5 separate regions of the Homo sapiens genome follow, and regions 2, 3, 4 and 5 are each linked to region 1. The links come from fine-mapping of genetic effects on gene expression. A gene starts in region 1. Each other region holds a variant in brackets. All regions are shown on one strand. Distances are from middle to middle. Region 1 holds the start of LAMC3 (laminin subunit gamma 3). Region 2 overlaps LAMC3 (laminin subunit gamma 3). Region 3 overlaps LAMC3 (laminin subunit gamma 3). Region 4 overlaps LAMC3 (laminin subunit gamma 3). Region 5 holds the start of LOC124902289 (a long non-coding RNA gene).

The links. PIP is the estimated chance that this variant, and not a neighbour inherited with it, causes the effect.
Region 2: its variant is fine-mapped to the expression of LAMC3 in blood mononuclear cells (TOPMed, PIP above 0.99). The same link has a PIP of 0.9 or more in whole blood.
Region 3: its variant is fine-mapped to the expression of LAMC3 in whole blood (TOPMed, PIP above 0.99).
Region 4: its variant is fine-mapped to the expression of LAMC3 in whole blood (TOPMed, PIP above 0.99).
Region 5: its variant is fine-mapped to the expression of LAMC3 in lung (TOPMed, PIP 0.98).

The regions. Positions count from the first base shown.
Region 1 is chr9:131,006,590-131,010,795 of GRCh38, forward strand. It overlaps LAMC3 (laminin subunit gamma 3), which reads left to right and starts at 2,585. Exons shown (of 28, transcript NM_006059.4): 1 at 2,585-2,998. The coding sequence starts at 2,626.
Region 2 is chr9:131,044,890-131,048,889 of GRCh38, forward strand. LAMC3 (laminin subunit gamma 3) reads left to right here. Exons shown (of 28, transcript NM_006059.4): 8 at 635-771. Among named protein-coding and RNA genes, the nearest start is that of LAMC3, 38 kb to the left of the region's middle. The variant C/T (reference allele first, on the strand shown) is at 1,796.
Region 3 is chr9:131,039,766-131,043,765 of GRCh38, forward strand. It overlaps LAMC3 (laminin subunit gamma 3), which reads left to right. Exons shown (of 28, transcript NM_006059.4): 7 at 1,872-1,970. Among named protein-coding and RNA genes, the nearest start is that of LAMC3, 33 kb to the left of the region's middle. The variant A/G (reference allele first, on the strand shown) is at 2,125.
Region 4 is chr9:131,066,384-131,070,383 of GRCh38, forward strand. LAMC3 (laminin subunit gamma 3) reads left to right here. Exons shown (of 28, transcript NM_006059.4): 14 at 577-822; 15 at 1,695-1,848; 16 at 2,525-2,667; 17 at 3,289-3,467. Among named protein-coding and RNA genes, the nearest start is that of AIF1L, 28 kb to the right of the region's middle. RefSeq lists an enhancer at 2,575-3,084. The variant C/G (reference allele first, on the strand shown) is at 2,106.
Region 5 is chr9:131,091,151-131,095,356 of GRCh38, forward strand. It overlaps LAMC3 (laminin subunit gamma 3), which reads left to right. Exons shown (of 28, transcript NM_006059.4): 28 at 387-3,323. The coding sequence ends at 637. LOC124902289 (a long non-coding RNA gene) reads right to left here and starts at 2,222. Exons shown (of 3, transcript XR_007061825.1): 1 at 2,126-2,222. RefSeq lists enhancers at 1,183-1,781, 1,782-2,378, 3,176-3,677. The variant C/G (reference allele first, on the strand shown) is at 1,929.

The DNA.
Region 1 (4,206 bases):
ATCACAGGTATGAGCCACCGTGCCTGGCACTAACATTTTTAAAAATTATATTTAACCATTGCATTGATCTAAAGACGGGTATATTAATATCATACGTTAAAACATGTTCTTCAGCCTAAAAGTTCTTTTTTTTCTTCTGACTTTAAAGATATTAGAACAGTTTTTGTGGGTTCCTAGAATTCCTGTGGGCTGCCATGTTTCCTGTGCCTGATAGATGAATTTGCTTTGGATGGGTGCACAGCCCAGCTCAGGGTAGCTGCGTGGACCATCAAGAGTCTGCTGCAATCATGTTCTTGACCATAAGAGAAAACTTTAACAAAGAAGCTTCCATAACACCATCAAAAAAACAATTTGGAATTACATTAAATGATATTTTAACTTGGGGAGAATTTGTATATTTAAACAGTTGGAAATCCGTGAATATAGATGCTGGTCTCTTCAGGTTTTCTGTCTCTCAGTAGCATTTTATAATTTGATTCATTTATATCTTGCACATTTCATACCAGATTTATTATTAGGTGTTCTACCATTTCCTACATCATTGCTGGCATCAGTTTTTTGTTTGTTTTGTTTTGTTTTTGTTTTGTTTTTTAAAAAACAGGGTCTTGCTCTATTGCATAGGCTGGAGTGCATTTGCGTGACCTCGGCTCACTGCAACCTCTGTCTCCTGAATTCAAGCGATTCTTGTGCCTCAGCCTTCCAAGTAGCTGGGATTACAGGTGTGCCACAATGCCTGGCTAATTTTTGTATTTTTAGTGGAGATGGGGTTTCACCATATTGCCCAGGCTGGTCTCGAACTCATGACCTCAGGTGATCTGCCTGCCTCAGCCTCCCAAAGTGCTGGGATTACAGGCGTGAGCCACCGCACCCAGCCAGAAAATGCCTATTGCTGGCATTGGTTTTCGTACTCTATCCTGTAGTCAGCCATCTTACGGAGCTCTTATTAATTTTAATAGTCTTAGTAGAATCTTTTAGATTTTCTAGATGTATGTTCAGGTAAGTAGAAGATATAAATATTTATATCTTTTAAGTTTTTTGTCTTATTGTATTAGCTAGAACTTCCAAAATAACCTTAGGTACCAGTGGTGATATCATATACTAACTCTACTTAGATATAGTTCTGAAATCTCTAACTTATTCCATGGGTCTATTCTGTAGTCCTTTCCACAACCGTATTGTTTTAATCATGTGTAAATAACTGGTAGTGAATCAGCCCACTACAGTTCATCTTGCTTCCAAAAATTTTCTTTCTTTCTTTTCTTTCTTTTTTTTTTTTTTGATGGAGTTTCTCTCTTGTTGCCCAGGCTGGAGTGCAATGGCATGATCTCAGTTCACTGCAACTTCTGCCCCCCGGGTTCAAACAATTCTCCTGCCTCAGCCTCCTGAGTAGCTGGGATTACAGGCACGCACCGCCACACCCAGCTAATTTTTGTGTTTTTAGTAGAGACGGGGTTTCACTATGTTGGCCAGGCTGGTCTCGAACTCCTGACCTCAGGTGATCTGCCTTCCTCAACTTCCCAAAATGCTGGGATTATAGGCGAGAGCCACCGCGCCAGGCCAGGAAATTTATTTCTATTTTCCTTAGAGTTCGTCTGGGAATGGCTGCCTTTTTTTTTTTTTTTTTTTCGAGACAGGGTCTGACTCTGTTGGCCAGGCTGGAGTGCAATGGCATGATCACAGCCCACTGCAGCCTAACCTCCCGGGCTCAAGGGATCCTTCCACCTCAGCCTCCCAGGTAGCTGGGACTACAGGCTTGTGCCATGACGCCGGGCTAATTTTTGTATTTTTTTGTAGAGATAGGGTCTCACTATTTTGCCCAGGTTGGTCTCGAACTCCTGGCCTCAAGTTATCCTTCCGCCTCCACCTCCCAAAGTGCTAGGATTACAGGCGTGAGCCACCGCGCACGACCTGGCTGCTAAATTTTATCGAATGACTTCTCTCCCTCGATTTGCTAATGTTAATAAATGGGGAGTAAAGGGGGCATTTATGGGGGTTGGGGCAGAAGACAAGGAAGCCCTCTCTGAGGTGACATTTGTGATAAGACCAGGTACCCTTGTCACAAATGTCAGGTTAGAATCTCTTTGCTGTGGGGACAGAGCGCAGCCGGCAGCAGGAGTGCTTTTCAGGGTTAAGGGCGACAGGAGCTATGCGGAGCCATCTCACAACCCTGTCCAGGGCACACTTTATTGCTAGGAGGAGATGCGCAAACGGTAGCGATCAGTTAGAGATAGATCCTCTTGTCCCCTTTTATCTCAGGACTCCAAGGCACTGCTGAACAGTTTCTGTTTAATGAGCAGCCATTGAAGCCTCCCAATGGCGAGAATGAGCCTGCATCTTTACCGACCCCACTCCACAGACGAGGAAACTGAGGCTCAAAGAGGCCCGGGTCGCCTCTGGGGCAGACTCCCGAGCCGCGCACTGCCGGGCACGTCCAGCAGGTGGGAGTGGGCGCCCGGGGACGGCGCGGTCCCTGGTATTTTTAGTGGGGTGGGGCCGCCGCCGCCCGCCCCTCCCTCCAGCCTCCCCGCCCCGCAGGGGAAGGCGGGTCCTGGCGGCCAGCGCGCGGTCCGCGCCCACCCTAGCCGAGCGGGGCCGGCAGAGCGCGCGGCGTCGGTGCCCTTGACCATGGCGGCGGCTGCGCTTCTGCTGGGGCTGGCGCTGCTGGCACCGCGGGCGGCCGGCGCGGGCATGGGCGCGTGCTATGACGGCGCAGGGCGCCCGCAGCGCTGCCTGCCGGTGTTCGAGAACGCGGCGTTTGGGCGGCTCGCCCAGGCCTCGCACACGTGCGGCAGCCCGCCCGAGGACTTCTGTCCCCACGTGGGCGCCGCGGGCGCGGGGGCTCATTGCCAGCGCTGCGACGCCGCCGACCCCCAGCGCCACCACAACGCCTCCTACCTCACCGACTTCCACAGCCAGGACGAGAGCACCTGGTGGCAGAGCCCGTCCATGGCCTTCGGCGTGCAGTACCCCACCTCGGTCAACATCACCCTCCGCCTAGGTAAGCGCGGGCTGGGGGCACCGCCACCGCACCCCGTGTCCCCACTCCACTGGGGGTCTGAGGCTGAGGCCTGAGCTGCTGTGCGCCCAGGTTGGGCTGCAGGACCCAGATATGGTGTTGGATGGAGGGGCTCAGAAATAGGAATTAGGCTGGGTGCGGTGGCTCACTCCTGAAATCCCAGCACTTTGGGAGGCCGAGATGGGAGGGTCGCTTGAGCCCAGGAGTTCAAGATCAGCCTGGGCAACGTAGTGAGATCCCATCTTTACAAAAAATAAAGAAAAATAGGCCGGGCGCGGTGGCTGACGTCTGTAATCCCAGCACTTTGGGAGGCCGAGGCGGGCGGATCACCTGAGGTCAGGAGTTCGAGACCAGCCTGGCCAACATGGTGAAAACCCGTCTCTACTAAAAATAGAAAATTTGGCCGGGCGTGGTGGTAGGTGCCTGTAGTTCCAGCTACTCAGGAGGCTGGGGCAGGAGAATCGCTTGAACCCGGGAGGTGGAGGTTGCCGTGAGCCGAGGTCGCACCACCGTTCTCCAGCCTGGGCAACAGAGCTAACTCCGTCTCAAAAAAAAAAAAAAAAAAAAAAAAAAGCTGGGCGTGGTGGTGCACACCTATGGTCCCAGCTACTCAAGAGGCTGAGGCAGGAGGATCACTTAAGACTGAGAGGTTGAGGCTGCATGAAATATGATAGTGCCACTGTGCTACAGCCTGGGCTACAGAGTGAGACCTTATCTCTTAATAAAAAGAAAGAATGAAAAAAAGAAGAAAAAAAAACAGGACCTGTACCCCTAGATAGCCAGAAGGATAGACTGAGGGGTGCCCCGTGGGGCGGGAGAGGCAGGGAGTCACTTGCTGAGCTTTGGTTCTAGGTTGCAATTATAATCCCCTGTAATGGTTTTCCATCCTAGACCAGAACTGTTGGGGAGGTGACACACCAAGGACTGAATTGGTCACCCTCTAGGGCAGGGGCTCCTGATCTTGGGTCTTCTGGTCAACTTCAGGTATTCAGTGGACCCCTGAAGCTGCCTGCAGTCCTCGGGTGGGTTCTGGAAGATAGAAGCTGTGATGTTCATCACTGCACAGGCAAAGTTTAACCCTCTGGGGAGGAGGACTAAGTTTCTTCGTGCTGCTGGGCAGCTGCGCCCGGTGGCATGGCCTCTCTGCCCTGCTCATGACTTGCCGAGGTGCAGAAGCCCTTAGATCTCCA
Region 2 (4,000 bases), 38 kb after region 1:
TGCAGCAGAAACCAGACATTAGAGGAAAAAGTGGAGAAATCCTATTAAAGTCGCTGGGCGCGGTGGCTCAAGCCTGAAATCCCAGTACTTTGGGAGGCTGAGGCGGGCGGATCCCCTGAGGTCAGGAGTTCGAGGTCAACCTGCCAACATGGTGAAATCCCGTTTCTACTAAAAATACAAAAATTAGCCGGGTGTGGTGGCAGGCGCCTGCAATCCCAGCTACCCGGGAGGCTGAGGCAGGAGAATCACTTGAACCCGGGAGGCGGAGGCTGCAGTGAGCCAAGATTGCACCATTGCACTCCAGCCTGGGCCACAGAACAAGACTCTGTCTCAAAAAAAAAAAAAAACAACAACAACAAAAAAACAAAACCTAATAAAGTCTGGAGTTTAGTTAACTTAGTTTTGACAAATGTACTGTGGTAATGTCAGATGTCAGCATCAGGGGAGGCTGTCTGAAGCAGGTATGGGAACAATCTGTAATGTTCTTACTACTCTTCTAGAATTCTGAAAAAAAATTGTTTTTAAGTTTCTGCAGTGATTCTAGACTCTCATTGGTCCAGCTGGGATACCCTGGCCCCGCCCCTTCCTGGCTGATTCACGTGGCCCTCGTGGGCATGTCCTGCCTCCATTTCAGATGTCGCCCGGGGACCTTTAACCTGCAGCCCCACAATCCAGCTGGCTGCAGCAGCTGTTTCTGCTATGGCCACTCCAAGGTGTGCGCGTCCACTGCCCAGTTCCAGGTGCATCACATCCTCAGCGATTTCCACCAGGGTAAGAGATGCTCCCTGCAAACGCCTCCCAAGGGTCTGCTCCCAGCCTAGGCAGGTGATCCTGCCCTGGGGAGATCTTGCATTAGTGGATCTCCCATTGTGGAGAGGAGCCACAGGCCTGCACAGCCTAGGTGGGGTCGGGGGTGAGATGATGGCTCCCCAGTGCCCACCTGCGACCCCCAGCTCCCTCCCCAGTCCCTGACTCTTCTCTTTATACCCGTGGTGGGGTTGGGGGCCGGGTACGTGACGCTTTTTGGATCCTGTAGGGGAATTTCCCACTCACCCCGTTGAGACTGGCCTCCCTTGGTGTGTCTAAACACTGGGGATTCAGGCTCAGTCTCCTGGCCTCCACTTATTGAGCACCTGCTGTTTGCCAGGCACTGTGCTGAGCACCTAACATGCAAGGATTCTCATTCCCCTTTCAATGATGAAGTAACTGAGACCTACAAAAGGTAGGCCACTTGCCTGAGGCCACATAACAGTTGTGAGCACTGCATTTGTCAGCTCCTGAGTTTTGCTCCTTTTTTTTTTTTTTTTTTTTTTTTTTTTTGGACACAGGGTCTTGCTGAGTCACCAAGGCTGAAGTGCAGTGGTGCAAGATTGCACAGCACAGCTCACTGCAGCCACCACCTCCCTGGGCTCACGTGATCCTCCCACCTCAGCCTCCTGAGTAGCTAGGACCACAGGTGTGCACCACCGTGCCCGGCTAATTTTTATATTTTTTTCTAAAGACAGGGTTTTGCCATGTCTTTAGACCCAGGCTGGTCTCAATCTCCTGGGCTCAAGTAGTCTGCCCACCTCCGCCTCCCAAAATGCTGGGACTACAGGCGTGCACCACCATGCCGAGCTAATTTTTGTATTTTTTTTTTTTTTTTTTTTTTTTTTGTACAGACGGGGTCTTACCATGTTGCCCAGGCTGGTCTAGAACTCCTGAGCTCAGGCAATCCCGCCCACCTCGGCTTCCCAAAGTGCTGGGATTATGAGTGTCCGCGCCCAGCTGTTTTGCCCTTAACCGCTGTGGTGGC[C/T]TATACCGTGGTCCCTGACTCCAGGTGGCACAGCCGCATATTTAAAGAGGAAAGCAGCAGAGCTCGGAGCTCTGCATTAAACCAGAGGCTGCGTGGGCCCCAGCGATGTCCCACGGAGCGCCCCGCACCTTCCGCCTGTCCCCAGGAAGGAGCGAGGCATCAGCTGAAACAGAAGAACCTCAGGGCCGACGCTGGGGCGGCCCCAGACATGAGGGCCGCGCGCCCTCTGCTGGAAGCCGCGCAGAAAGCAGGACCGAGAGATGCGCGGACCGGCGCCGCGTGTCTGGGTCCTGGGTCCGGGGGTCTAGGGTGTCAGCGTTGGGCAGGACTCATTTTCTAGACCCTAAGAACAGTGTCATGATCTGTTCTCACATTGGGCCAGGCACTGGGTGTGGCCGGCCCTTCAGGGGTGTCATCTCATTTTGTCTCACAGTTGCCCTTGCGCAGGAGTTCTCAAAACTTTTTGGTCTCTGAATTCCTCTTTTTTTTTTTTTTTTTAAGACGGAGTCTCACTGTGTTGCCCAGGCTGGAGTGCAATGGCGTGATCTCAGCTCTCTGCAACCTCCGCCTCCCAGGTTCAAGTGATTTTCCTGCCTCAGCCTCCTGTGTAGCTGGGACTGCAGGCACCCACCACCACGCCCAGCTTATTTTTGTATTTTTAGTACAGGTCGGGGGTTTCACCATGTTGGTCAGGCTGGTCTTGAACTCCTGACCTCAACTGATCCACCCTCCTCAGCCTCCCAGAGTGCTGGGATTACAGGTGTGAGCCACCGCACCCGGCCTCTGGATCCCTTTATGCTCTTGAAAATTATTGAGAACCCCAAAGTGCTTTTGTTTATGTGGGTGGTTTGTATGGATATTTGCTGTCTTAGAAATGGAAACTGTGGCTGGGCGCAGTGGCTCACGCCTGTAATCCCAGCACTCTGGGAGGCCGGGGTGGGGGTGGGGGGAGCGGATCACCTGAGGTCAAGAGTTCGAGACCAGCCTGGCCAACATGACGAAACCCCGTCTCTGCTAAAAATACAAAAATTAGCCAGGCGTGGTGGCCAGCTCCTGTAATCCCAGCTACTCGGGAGGCTGAGGCAGGAGAATCGCTTGAACCTGGGAGGCAGAGGTTGCAGTGAGCCGAGATCGCGCCACTGCACTCCAGCCTGAGTGACAGGGTGAGACTCTGTCTCAAAAAAAAAGAAAACAAGTAGTTTTTAAATTTTTATTATTTTTATTTATTTTTATTTTATTTTTTTAGCAGAGACGGGGTTTGCCATGTTGACCAGGATGGTCTTGATCTCTTGACCTCATGATCCATCTGCCTCGGCCTCCCAGAGCGCTAGGATTATAGGTGTGAGCCACCACACCCAGCTGATTTTTTTTTTTTTTTTTTTTTTTTTTTGAGTCAGAGTCTTGCTCTGTCACCCAGGCTGGAGTGCAGTGGCACAATCTCAGCTCGCTGCAACCTCCGCCTCTCGGGTTCAGGCGATTCTCCTGCCTCAGCCTCCTGAGTAGCTCAGATTATAGGCAGCTGCTACCATGCCTGGCTAATTTCTGTATTTTTAGCAGAGATGGGGTTTCGCCATGTTGGCCAGGCTGGTCTCGAACTTCTGACCTCAGATGATCCACCCACCTCGGCCTCTCAGAGTGCTGGGATTACAGGCATGAGCCACTGTGCCTGGCCTTCTAGTTCCTTCTAAATGCCTGTCTGCAAACTTCTCTTCATGTTGACATCTTCCTTTCTCTGACCTCTTTCCCCACTCCGTTCCTTCCTTCTTACCCCTTGGCTGCCCCAGGTATTTGGCCTCTGCCTCATTGCCCGCTACCCCCTGGAGAGGCACCTCCTTAAGGTCACTCGCTGTGTGCTGGGCTGTGCTCCGTGTTAACTGCTGTGGCCAGAGGGAGGAGGCACTGAACTGGCACTGGGGACCAGAAGGCCTGGGCTCCCGTCGTGGCTGGGCCCCTTCCTAACCAGGTGGCCTCCTTGCCTGAGGTGCTGTTAATGACATGGGCCACTGGAAGGACAGGGTTCATGAGGTCACAGGTGAGAAAGTTCTCTGAGAACCTGAAGATGAGGTCAAGTCTGGTACTATTAGAGATGGCCCTGATGTCCCAGGGCCCCCATGTGGGGGTCTTCAGGCTGTCTTCATGCTGAGCTCAAAACCCCACTGAAAGGGCAGGGCAGGCTTCCAGGTCTGACCATGCCCCCAAGCAGAT
Region 3 (4,000 bases), 33 kb after region 1:
CTGACCTTCGGGGTTCTCTGGGCCTCTGGATAGCAGGGCACGCAGTGTGGGGAGCGGGGTGGGAGAGGCTGAGTGTCATCTGGGTGCACCGAGTTTGGTACCTAGTGGGACAGCTGAGGGGAGAGAGGGACAGGGGCTCCTGGGGTCTGGACCTTACCCCAACACATTTGCCATCACTTGATTGAGAAAGTATACAATGGCCAAAAAACAAAAACAAAACAAAACAAAAACCTATGATAAATTTAGAAGCTTTTTTTTTTTTTTTTTGAGACAGATTCTTGTTTTGTCAACCAGGCTGGAATGCAGTGGTGCCATCTTGGCTCACTGCAACCTCCACCTCCCCGGTTCCAGCAATTCTCTGCCTCAGCCTTCTGAGTAGCTGGGATTACAAGCATGCACCACCATGCCCACTATCTCTATTTTTTTTTTTAAGATGGAGTCCTCCTCTGTCACCCAGGCTGAAGTGCAGTGGCGCGATCTCTACTCACTACAACCTCCGCCTCCCAGACTCAAGTGATCCTCTCATCTCAGCCTCCTGAGTAGCTGAGATTACAAATGTGCACCACCACACCCGGCTAATTTTTGTATTTTTTGGTAGAGATGGGGTTTTGCCATGTTGCCCAAGCTGGTCTCAAGCTCCTGGGCTCAAGTAATCCACCCTCCTCGGCTTCCCAAAGTGCTGATTACAGACGTGAGTCACCGCGCCTGGCCCAGAAGCACTTTTAAGTGAACTTGCTTTGGTTGATAACGGGCATCTTTGTATATTTGAGAGGCAGCAGAAACACATTGGGGATATCTAGGAGAGCTCTGATTCCTTGTAAAATATTTGGTGGTTCTGGGCATAAAACTGACCATGAGATGGGGCCTGGCTGCTTCCCTGGGGTCCCTCTGTCCTCTGGACCTTTGCAGGTGCCACACCTCCCACCCCTGCCCCCTCTCCCCAGCCTGTGGCTCACAGCCTCCTGCTCATTCTTCAGGTCTCAGCTGAGCAGCCCCGCTCTCGGGACACCTTCCCTCCCACCTGCCCCTCGCCTGCACACCCAGGCTGAGTCAGAGGCCCCACAGTGCAGGCACAGCCTCTCGTACATCTCCCACAACACGTATCGCGGTACAGGGTCTGCGTGATCTGTCTGTCTACACCAGACTGGGATTCACCAGGGAGGAACCATGTCTTATTAGATGAGTGGATGGATGGAGGGAGGGATGGAAAGATGCATGGATGGGTGAATGAATGGGTGGATAGGTGGCTGCTGGACAGAAAGAAGGAAGGATGAATAAGTGGATGGAGGAGTGAGGGGATAGACAGAAAGATTCATGGAGGCCGAGCACGGTGGCTCATGTATGTAATCCTGGCACTTTGGGAGGCCAAGGCAGGTGGATCACCTGAGGTCACGAGTTAAAGACCAGTCTAGCCAACATGGTGAAACCCTGTCTCTACTAAAAATACAAAAATTAGCTGGACATGGTGATGCATGCCTGTAGTCCTAACTACTCAGGAGGCTGAGACAGGAGAATCACTTGAACCCAGGAGGCAGAGGTTGCAGTGAGCCAAGATCATGACACTGCGCTCCAGCCTGGGTGGCAAAGTGTGACTCTGTCCCAAAAAAAAAGATTCATGGATGATGAGTGAGTGCGTGGATGACAGATGGAAGGATCCTGGATGGATGTGTGGTGGGTGGGAAGATGGACCACTGTACCAGTGATGGATGGGTCACTTCCTTGGCAAGATGGGAACAGTAAAGCCAGGTCAGTTACCTGCGTCAGCCTCACTCCTGATGTTGGCAGCAGGGAAAGCTCCCTTCCTAGGATGGGCTGTTGCCATTCTGAATTTGCTCATTGCACATTTTCCTCTTGTCCTGTCTCATTGGCAGACCCTGCACTTGCAATCCCGCTGGCAGCCTGGACACCTGTGACCCCCGCAGTGGGCGCTGCCCCTGCAAAGAGAATGTGGAAGGCAACCTATGTGACAGGTTTGTGAGCTAATCCAGCAGTAAGCTTGCTGGAAGTGACCTGGGGGCTCACTGATGAGGCACCAAAGCTGTGGAGTGCGGGGAGGAGCAAGGGGCACGGTCTTCATGGACTTGGGTGACCTTGTCACCCTGTGCCCTTCCTGGGGCACCATGT[A/G]TCTGTCATACAGGAAGTTACTCAAAAGCTTTATGGCACTGTTTGTGCTTTGATTCAACACCACTGATCATTCATAAGCTGAGAAAATACATGTCTTAGCTTAGAATCCTGAAAAGAAAGAACTGGAATGATAGGAGAGACCATCTAATCCAGGGATAGTAAATAGATGGTGCTCGTACTACCACCTGCTGTGGCAGACATCGCTAATGGAGCACTATCACAGGCCTCCCGTTTCACACTCACTGCAGACATAGCTAATGGAGCACTATCACAGGCCTCCCGTTTCACACCCACAGCAGACATCACTCATGGAGTATTATCAACGCTCCCCTTTCACACCCATGACAGACACCACTAACGGAGCACTATCACAACCCTTTCACACCCACGGCAGACCTATCACAGCCCTCCCTTTTCACACTCAATAGACATTACTCATGCAGCACTGTCAATACACCCCTTTCACACCCACAGCAGACATCACTAATGGTATACCCATGGTACACATCACTAAGGGAGCACTATCACAGTCTTCCCCTTTCTTACCCACAGCAGATATCACTAATGGAGCACTATCACAACCCTCCCTTTTCACACTCACGGCCAACATCACTCATGGAGCATTGTCAATGCACCCCTTTCACACCCACAGCAGACATCACTAATGGTATAACCATGGCAAACATCACTAATGGAGAACTATCACAGCCTCCCCCTTTCATACCCACAGCAGGCATCACTAATGGAGCACTATCAACCCTTGCCTTTCACAGCCATGGCAGACATCACTAATGGTGCCATATCAAACTTTCCCTTTCATAGCCATGGCAGGCATCACTAATGAAGCACTACTACAACCCTTCTTTTTCACACCCATAGCAGACATCATTCATGGAGCACTGTCAACACACCCCTTTCACACCCACAACAGACATCACTAATGGCATACCCATGGCAGACATCACTAAGGGAGCACTATCACAACCCTCCCCTTTCATACCCACAGCAGACATCACTAATGGAGCACCATCAACTCTCCCCTTTCACACCATGGCAGACATCACTGATGGCATACCCATGGCAGACATCACTAAGGCAACACTATCACAACCCTCCCCTTTCACACCCACAACAGACATCACTAATGGGGCACAGCAGTCTTGGCCATGAGCCCTACTATAACCTCAGGATCCTTCTTAACACCCTGCTTCAGGAAGCCCCTACCCACTGAGCTGGATTTTGAGCCTGTTTGCCATCTTTGCAGTCTGATCATGGTACAAATGGGGCATCTGAAGCTCTGCAAGTCAAAGGGGCTCTCCCAAGGCCAGGAAGTACATAAACTTCCTCTTTCAAGTGTTCAAGAGGCCTCCAAGCTCCAGCAGTGCGGCCAGCAGACAAACATGGGTTTAGCTCCTTGGGTACACACTATCTCTTCTTCCTGGCTTTGTGTCTGACATTCACCAGAGCTGCTTGGAGAAGTGGCAGATTCTGGGGCTGGGGCTGGAAAAAGACAAGATAAGCCCAAGGCGTCTTACAGTGCCAGGAAGCAAGGAAATGCTGAAAAACAGAGACAGACACAAACAAAACAGCCCAAACCAGAACGTGGGCCCATGTCAAAAGGACACAGGAGCCGACGTGAAAGAGCTCTCAGGGCTGAAACAATTTGAGCAACAAAATAAACGATAGTATTGGATTATAACCCAGAGAATAAAGTCAAATCCACGAATCCATACTGATGTAAATAGATGATTGAATACATAAATAGATGGGCATGAAGAGACAAACCTTCCTTGCAGAAGAATTCCAAGTAATGAATGTAGAAATGAAGGAACTGGAAAACCACTGTTCAGACCTCACAGTGGTAATTGCTACAGGC
Region 4 (4,000 bases), 60 kb after region 1:
GGGAGGCTGAGGCAGGAGAATTGCTTGAACCCAGGAGGCAGAGGTTGCAGTGAGCCGAGATCGTACCACACTACACTCCAGCCTGGGTGATAGAGTGAGACTCCATCTCAATAATAATAATAATAATAATAATATAAGGATGATGATGAAGAAGGTCATGGTGATTGAGGTGCTGCTGGGGATAGTGGTGATGGTGAAGATAATGGTGACGATGATGATGAGGGTGTGAGGACAGATATGTGATGATAGCCACCACTCCTGAGTGCTTACTACATGTCAGGCTGGATGTTAAGCGCTTTTCACAAATTATGTCACTGAATCCTCCCCACAGTCCTGTGGGGAGCTGCCATTGTTGTCCCCGCTTTAGAGATGAGGAACCTGAGCTCCTAGAGGCGCAGTGGCTTGCTCAGGACCACACAGCTGTGGGCAGCCACTGGGGGCCGGTCCCAGGTCCTCCTGCCCAAGCCCGTGCTGCTCCGGGGAAGGTGGAGGGACGCTTGCTCTGCTTCACACCCACCCTCATCCCTGGTGGGTCCAGCCAGCTGTGTTCCCCACACGTGCTCCCTCTACACACAGGGCGGCGCTGTGAGGTCTGTGATGATGGCTTTTTTGGGGACCCGCTGGGGCTCTTTGGGCACCCCCAGCCCTGCCACCAGTGCCAGTGTAGCGGGAACGTGGACCCCAATGCCGTGGGCAACTGTGACCCCCTGTCTGGCCACTGCCTGCGCTGCCTGCACAACACCACGGGTGACCACTGTGAGCACTGTCAGGAAGGCTTCTACGGGAGCGCCCTGGCCCCTCGACCCGCAGACAAATGCATGCGTGAGTACCTACCTCCAGACCCCAGGGTGGCACATGGTGGGCCCCTTCTCTTCTGCCCTGGCTCAGGGCCCAGAAGGGGTGGCTGAGGAACCCACCAGAACCAGCTGGCTCCTCTGCAAGGCTGTCCAGCCTCAGGCAGGTCACTTCCCTTCCTGTCTCCATGTCCAGAAAGCACAAGGGTTTGCCCCTCTCCCAGGTCTCTTTCAGCCGGGAGATCTTATAAACTCTGATCCGAAGCCTGGATTGTCTAGTGCTTACCTCCCACTCTGCAGTCAGCACGTATGGCTGACCCGGTGATCGCCCTGCGCCGGGTCTCCATGGCCATGCCTCCCCTCATCACCTCAGTTAACACTCAGCCCCTGGGAGGCTCCCAGAGCCCTGCAGGAGGGAAGCTCAGCCTTTGCTCCACACTGATGTGCTTGGAGCCCTTTCCCACGCAGCAGCTGCCGGCTCCTGCTCACTCTCGCTTTGTGGAACCCCTGCAGGAAACACCGCTCTGGCCCAGAGTGAGATGCTCCCCTGGCAGTGGCCAGGAGAACAGGGTCACGGGACCCAGAGCCATGGGTGCAGGGCTGTGCCTGTGACCCTCGCCCAAGTCTCTGGCCCTCTGCAGCCTGCCAGGGCTCAGGGCAGGCTCAGAAGGATTGTCTGTTACCATGACCGTCCTGGGCTGTCCCTCTAAGGATATAGTCAATGGGCTGAGGCTTGAGCTTGGCCCTGGAGCCTTTTTCCAGCAGTGGCGTCTGAATCTGGGCTGAATGTGCCGTATCATCTCTGGAGGCTCCCCCATCTCCTCTGCCTCTGTTGGACCCCCAAAGTTGGAACAGACAATCTGCATTGTTCCCAACACCCCTTCCTGCTCCTGCCCCCAGCTTGCAGCTGTCACCCACAGGGCTCGGTCAGTGAGCAGATGCCCTGCGACCCAGTGACAGGCCAATGCTCCTGCCTGCCTCATGTGACTGCACGGGACTGCAGCCGCTGCTACCCTGGCTTCTTCGACCTCCAGCCTGGGAGGGGCTGCCGGAGGTAGGTAGGGTGAGACTGCCGGTGCCCTGGGGACCTCTCCAGGAGGGAAGAAGGCATCGGGCAGCCCCCAGGGAGGGGCCTGGTTTGGAAGGTGTTGTCCTAGGCCCACTGCCAGGCACATTGTGCCCTTTGCCGAAGGGGAGCAAAGGGATGGACTCTTGGCATCCGACTCATGCTCCTGCCAGCCCAGGATGCAGGCCAAGAGCAGCCCTAAAGGGTGTCCAGGCAGGCAGGTGGCCGGTTTGGTCTCTGATTCC[C/G]TTCTCAGTGACACTCTCCCTGGGTGGCCTTTTGGCCACAGTAGCACCTTAGACAAGTGTTCTTAGGGAACAGGAGGACTCCAGGGAAACACCAAGTGGAGCAAACAGGTTTCTTCCTTGCAGGACTTCTCAGAGCTCTTACTATGCTGATTGCATCATGACTTTCCAACAGAGGGGTATAGTCTCCCCGAGACACGTTTGTCCCCATAGCCTTATTTTATCTTCTTTTCTCCCTGAGCATCCTGGGAAACTTGTGCTTTCCAGAGCACAGCTGGGGAAGCTGTGCCATGCACCGAGAGGAGATGGGGTCTTGTCAGCAGAGGGCTGTGATCTGAGGCCCCAGCCAGCTGCAGCCGGCAGAGGCTGGGCCAGGAGTGGCCCTGAGCTTGCCTCAGACCCAGTTCCTTCCCTGATCACAGCTGCAAGTGTCACCCACTGGGCTCCCAGGAGGACCAGTGCCATCCCAAGACTGGACAGTGCACCTGCCGCCCAGGTGTCACAGGCCAGGCCTGTGACAGGTGCCAGCTGGGTTTCTTCGGCTTCTCCATCAAGGGCTGCCGGGGTAAGGAGGCTGGGTCCTTCCCGGGCTGCCCTGAGGGTGGGGCCCGAGGGTCTCTGGGCAGAGATGACTGATGGGGAAAATGGGCGCAGCAGGAAAGGATCGTCAGACATGGGACAGGGTCCCGAGAGCAGCCGGAAGCATGGAGCGAGTTGCTCCCGTGGCAGTGGCCGGGACAGCAGAGTCACATGACCCAGAGCAGTGGGTGCAGGGCTGTGCTTGTGACCCTCGCCCAAGTCTCTGGCCCTCTGCAGCCTGCCAGTGTCCTCATGCCGGCCAGGAATGTAGTCCCAGACGCGCTGTTAAGTGCCTGTGTGCCTGGGGCCATCATGTCACTCTCTGGGCCTCAGTTTCCTCACCTGTAGAGTTGGGCTGCATTGGCAGTTCCTAAACCTGGCTGGTCCTCAGATCCCGAGGGAACATTGGAATAAGCCAGGCTCTGTGCCACCTTCAACCTTCTGAATCAGAATCTCCAGGGAAGGGCCCAGGAATGTTTTTGATGCTGCCTAGGGCATTCTGGGAACACCCAGAACCCAGCACGCACTGCCCCTGGCCCCTCTAAACCCAGCACGCACTGCCCCTGGCCCCTCTAAACCCAGCACGCACTGCCCCTGGCCCCTCTAGCCTGCAGGTGCTCCCCACTGGGCGCTGCCTCGGCCCAGTGCCACGAGAACGGCACATGCGTGTGCAGGCCTGGCTTCGAGGGCTACAAATGTGACCGCTGCCACGACAACTTCTTCCTCACGGCAGACGGCACACACTGCCAGCAATGTCCGTCCTGCTACGCCCTGGTGAAGGAGGAGGTGAGTCGGCCCAGACCCACTCACCTTTCCATTCATTCTGTATTCCCAGCAAGTGCCAGCTCTATGCCGGGCACCAGGAACTGCCTGCTTACCCCCAGTGCTCAGGCTTTGCAAGCCCACCACCTACCTTCTCCCTGTGCCCACCCAGCTTCAGGCCTGTTCCAGCCTGGCTCGACCCTCACCTCGGCCCTTCCCCTGCTCTAGGTGGATGGGGGAAATGTGACTCTTGTCACCTGCCTTTCCCCACCACGCCAGGCTGGGGTCTCACTCTCTCAGGTTCGGTGGGGATGAGACCACAGATGACCCCTTGGTAAAGAGGGTTAACAGGAGGTGATTCTGAGTGGGAAGGTGGCTGGTGCAGAAGTCCGGAGTTCAAGCTCTAGGGTTAACCCATTGGGGTTCCCCTCCCCCAACTCCATTCATTGTCATGTGTCTGGGCAGGCAACAGCCTTGGTAAGCCTCTGTCTCTTTCGTACTCCAGACTGGAGATAGTTCAGGCCTGCAATCCTTTTCTAGAAACCAGTGGGGCCAGC
Region 5 (4,206 bases), 85 kb after region 1:
GCTGTCAGTGAATTGAGCCAGCATGTTCAAGCTGGCAAAAATCACAGGGGCCTTTCTCCCACACTGTTTTGTAAATGAGTAAACTAAGACTCAGAGAGGACTCACCTGAGGCCTTCTTTTTTAACAATAATAGTAAAACCATCAACAAAAATGACATTTGTCAAGTGCCACCCAGGAGGATGTTCTAGAGTCTGCCCATGGGCCCGTTGGGATGCTATGGGTCCTCACCCACCTCCCAGCCCTTCTGCTCCCCATCTTTCCCTGGTGGATGGTGGGCCATTGGAATCCTGGGAGGCCTGAGCTGGGGAGAGGCTCAGGGGCTGGGAGGTGCCCTGGGGCCTGCAGGGCTGCTGGCTCACAGTGAGGCTGTTTGTGCCCCACCACAGGGTCGCTGGACACCCATCAAGCCCCAGCCCAGGCCCTGAACGAGACTCAGTGGGCACTAGAACGCCTGAGGCTGCAGCTGGGCTCCCCGGGGTCCTTGCAGAGGAAACTCAGTCTGCTGGAGCAGGAATCCCAGCAGCAGGAGCTGCAGATCCAGGGCTTCGAGAGTGACCTCGCCGAGATCCGCGCCGACAAACAGAACCTGGAGGCCATTCTGCACAGCCTGCCCGAGAACTGTGCCAGCTGGCAGTGAGGGCTGCCCAGATCCCCGGCACACACTCCCCCACCTGCTGTTTACATGACCCAGGGGGTGCACACTACCCCACAGGTGTGCCCATACAGACATTCCCCGGAGCCGGCTGCTGTGAACTCGCCCCCGTGTGGATAGTCACTCCCTGCCGATTCTGTCTGTGGCTTCTTCCCTGCCAGCAGGACTGAGTGTGCGTACCCAGTTCACCTGGACATGAGTGCACACTCTCACCCCTGCACATGCATAAACGGGCACACCCCAGTGTCAATAACATACACACGTGAGGGTGCATGTCTGTGTGTATGACCCACACGTGTTCAAGTCTAATCCATCCAGTCAGCAGCTTACGGTCCACACACATTACAGTCCACAGCTGTTGTGAGAGCCACCTGTGTGCTGGACACCCTCTGGATGTTGGGCAAGTTGTTACATGAGATGCCCTGGGGTGCTACATCCACTCACTCCAGATAGCAGGGAGGTCTCAGCAGATCTGCAGAGATCAAGGGGGTCAGCAACAGCCAAAGCCCCTAGTCCCAGAGCTGGCTGCCCTCTGTTTCACAGCAGCTCCCTGACCTGTGTTGCTGCGTGCACTCCCTACAGCTCGACACAGCCAGGGGACCAACAGGCCAAGAAATGCAAGATCCCGGGAGGGTTCTTAGCAGCAGAATCTGAGGCCCAGAGACCCTGAGGCCGTGGCCAGGCCTGCTAGTCTGGCTAGAGCAAGGCCCATTCCTGGCGGGGGTGTCATTGCCTTCACCGGACGCTTCCCTCTCAGGGTCCTGGGACTGCACCAGATGCCCTGAGGGAATGGCCCACCCTGGCCTGTACCCACTTCAGCCTGTGATCTATCCAAAGAGCCAGGCCCAAAAGCGCCTAGGTCAGGGTGCTCAGGCTACCAGGAGCACGCCTCTGTGCCCCCGGCAACCCAGTTGACCTTTAATTGACGCTTTCCAGACCAGCCCTGCGGCACCACTTGCCATGCGGGAGGCCACCAGGGTGTGCAAGCCTGGCTGCCATTCCAGTCTGTCCTGTCTGGGAATCGCCCTGTGGCCAGGCCCGCATGCTGGCCTCTGCCCAGGACTCCTCAGCATTTCCTCTTGGCATCCCTCCCCTCTCCCAGACCCTCTTCCAGCAGATGGCAAGGCCTCGGCATTGGGAAGTCAGGCACCTCTGCGGGCCCAGCCCCCTCCCGTGGCTCCCCTGACAGGGGCAGGGGTAGGGCAGCAGCACAGACCAATTCCGTTGAACGTGGAAATAAAGGACCCTTTCACTGGGCAGGGTGGTGTGCCTCACC[C/G]TCCCCGGCTGGTGGGCAGCCAGGGCCCTGGCTGTGGGTGTGCATATGACACACCTAGTAGGTGGCCAGCATGTGGACCGGACGTTGGTAGGAAGGTGGCAAAAGCCGAGCTCGTGGCTGGGCCAGTACCTCCCATTAGAGGGCTTTGCTGGGGTTGTGTGATCACAGGTACCTACCCTGTCCTCTCAGGCACTTACCACGTAAAGCCTAGGAGCTGGTGAGTTGGAGGGGTGGGGTGCGGAGAGGCCCTCAGCTGACCTCTGGTTCAGGCTCGAGACGAACTCACAGCCAAGTGTCCGAGGATGGTGAGGAGCAGGGAGGGGCGCCATCCAGGAGGGGGATGGTGTGGGTGGGGCCTTGAAGGGTGGGGAGGCAGAGAAGGAAGCATTCCAGGCAAGAGGGTGGACAACAGTCCGGGGCCCGCAGGGTTGGGGCTCGGCCAGCTTGCATCACTCCAGGACCCCAGGTTGAATGGGGTGGGATGTTGGAGCTGCTCAGTCAGGGCTCTTGGCCGCAGGCCTCAAACCCCTCCTGAGGTGGTTTCAGCAGAAAAGGGGTGTTGGGAGGGTCGCTTGGAACCCTGGAGTAAAAACGGCTGCCACGTGTTGGAGATAGCCTAGGGAGGGGAGCCTGAGGCTTCCGGGATAGGTTGGCTTCCCTCTTCCCCCCTCCCGCCTCTCTTCTTGGTCTGTGTCTCTGCTCTCCTCTCCTGTATCTGCTTCGTTCTTTTCTCTTTATTTATTGATTTTTTTTGAGATGGAGTCTCGCTCTGTTGCCCAGGCTGGAGTGCAGTGGCATGATCTCTGCCCACTGCATCCTCCACCTCCCAGGTTTAAGCAATTCTCCTGCCTCAGCCTCCCGAGTAGCTAGGACTACAGGTGCTTGCCACCATGCCCAGCTAATTTTGGTATTTTTAGTAGAGACAGGGTTTCACCACGTTGGTCAGGCTGGTCTCAAACTCCTGACCTCAGATGATATACCTGCATTGGCCTCTTAAAGTTCTGGGATTTCAGGCATGAGCCACTGCAACCGGCCCATTCTTTTCTCTTTGCAGAGTGGCTTTCTTTGTTTTTCTTGTGCCTGATAGGAGAGGACACCCACCCCTACCGCCATCCCCCATAATGGCCCCAGGTGTACATGTCATCAGGTCCAGTGCTTGCAAGAGACAAGCTGGTGACTCTGTCCTGATTCCAGCTTCTCAGCTTAGGTGAAGTCCCACCAACCCCCGTTCAGGATAATGAGGATCTCTGGATCTAAGGCCAATAATGGATGACCGGTGCCACCCCCCAACCTAATGGGAGATGGTGTTCAGAGAAGAGGTGTGCTCCTCCACAGAAAACTGTAAAATCAAGGCTACGGTGGGGGATTGACATGATTAAACTGAGCTAGGAGTGACTTGGTCCCTAGATGTCTGGGCAGAGGTGGAGAGGCCGAAGATGGGGGAGCTGCTGCTGCACAGTGAGTTTGGTGATTGGCGTCTGGTGTAAGTGATGTCGAGAATATGGAGTTCTTCCAAGACCTCTGGGATAGGGTCTGATGTCCCCCTCCCGCCTCCCTCCAGTTTCTCAGCCGATGGCACACAGTCGTCCTGGTGCCTGCTCTTGGCACTCAGCCTTTATCCACTCAAGCCGTGGGATCCAGCTCAGCTCAGTCCCAGCATCCCCGACGGGTGGAGAACTCGGGCCTGACATGTTGTGACTCACGCAGTCTGATCATGCCTGGTGCATGTGCTGATCTATTCTCTGGCCCCAGAGGTGGGGCCGCTGCCGGGTGGAATGCGGCAGCTGTTGAACATCTGGCTAGCAATGCAGTCCAGCAGCTGAGCAGAAGGTGGGGTGGCCCCTGCCCTGTAGGATGGCTGACTGGAGCCAACCAGCCCAACCGGCCAGGGCAATAGGCTGTTGGAGCCTGGAGAGGGAAGTGCATTATGAGGGCTCTGTCCTAAGTCAGCTCCCATCCACCAAGGGTGGTAACGCTAAGCTTTTACTCTCTGCTTAAACCATCCAGCAAGTCATCAAAGTTACAAAAGCCCCTGCTTAGTGCGTTCTGGGTTACTTCATTGTGAAGATCAGGGGACTGAAGCTCAGCCAGATCAAGTGCCTCGCCTAAGGTCATGCAGCTTGGCCAAATCCAAACCCTTGGGTGAGTGGACAGAGGAGCGTCAGCTAGGAGAGGTGGGCGCTGGTCTTACTGGGGAGGAGGGGCCTGCCCCCTGGACTGCTGCCCTGACCTCAGCCCCATCCCATTCTGCCTAGCCCCTTGCTGGGCACTTCCCTCC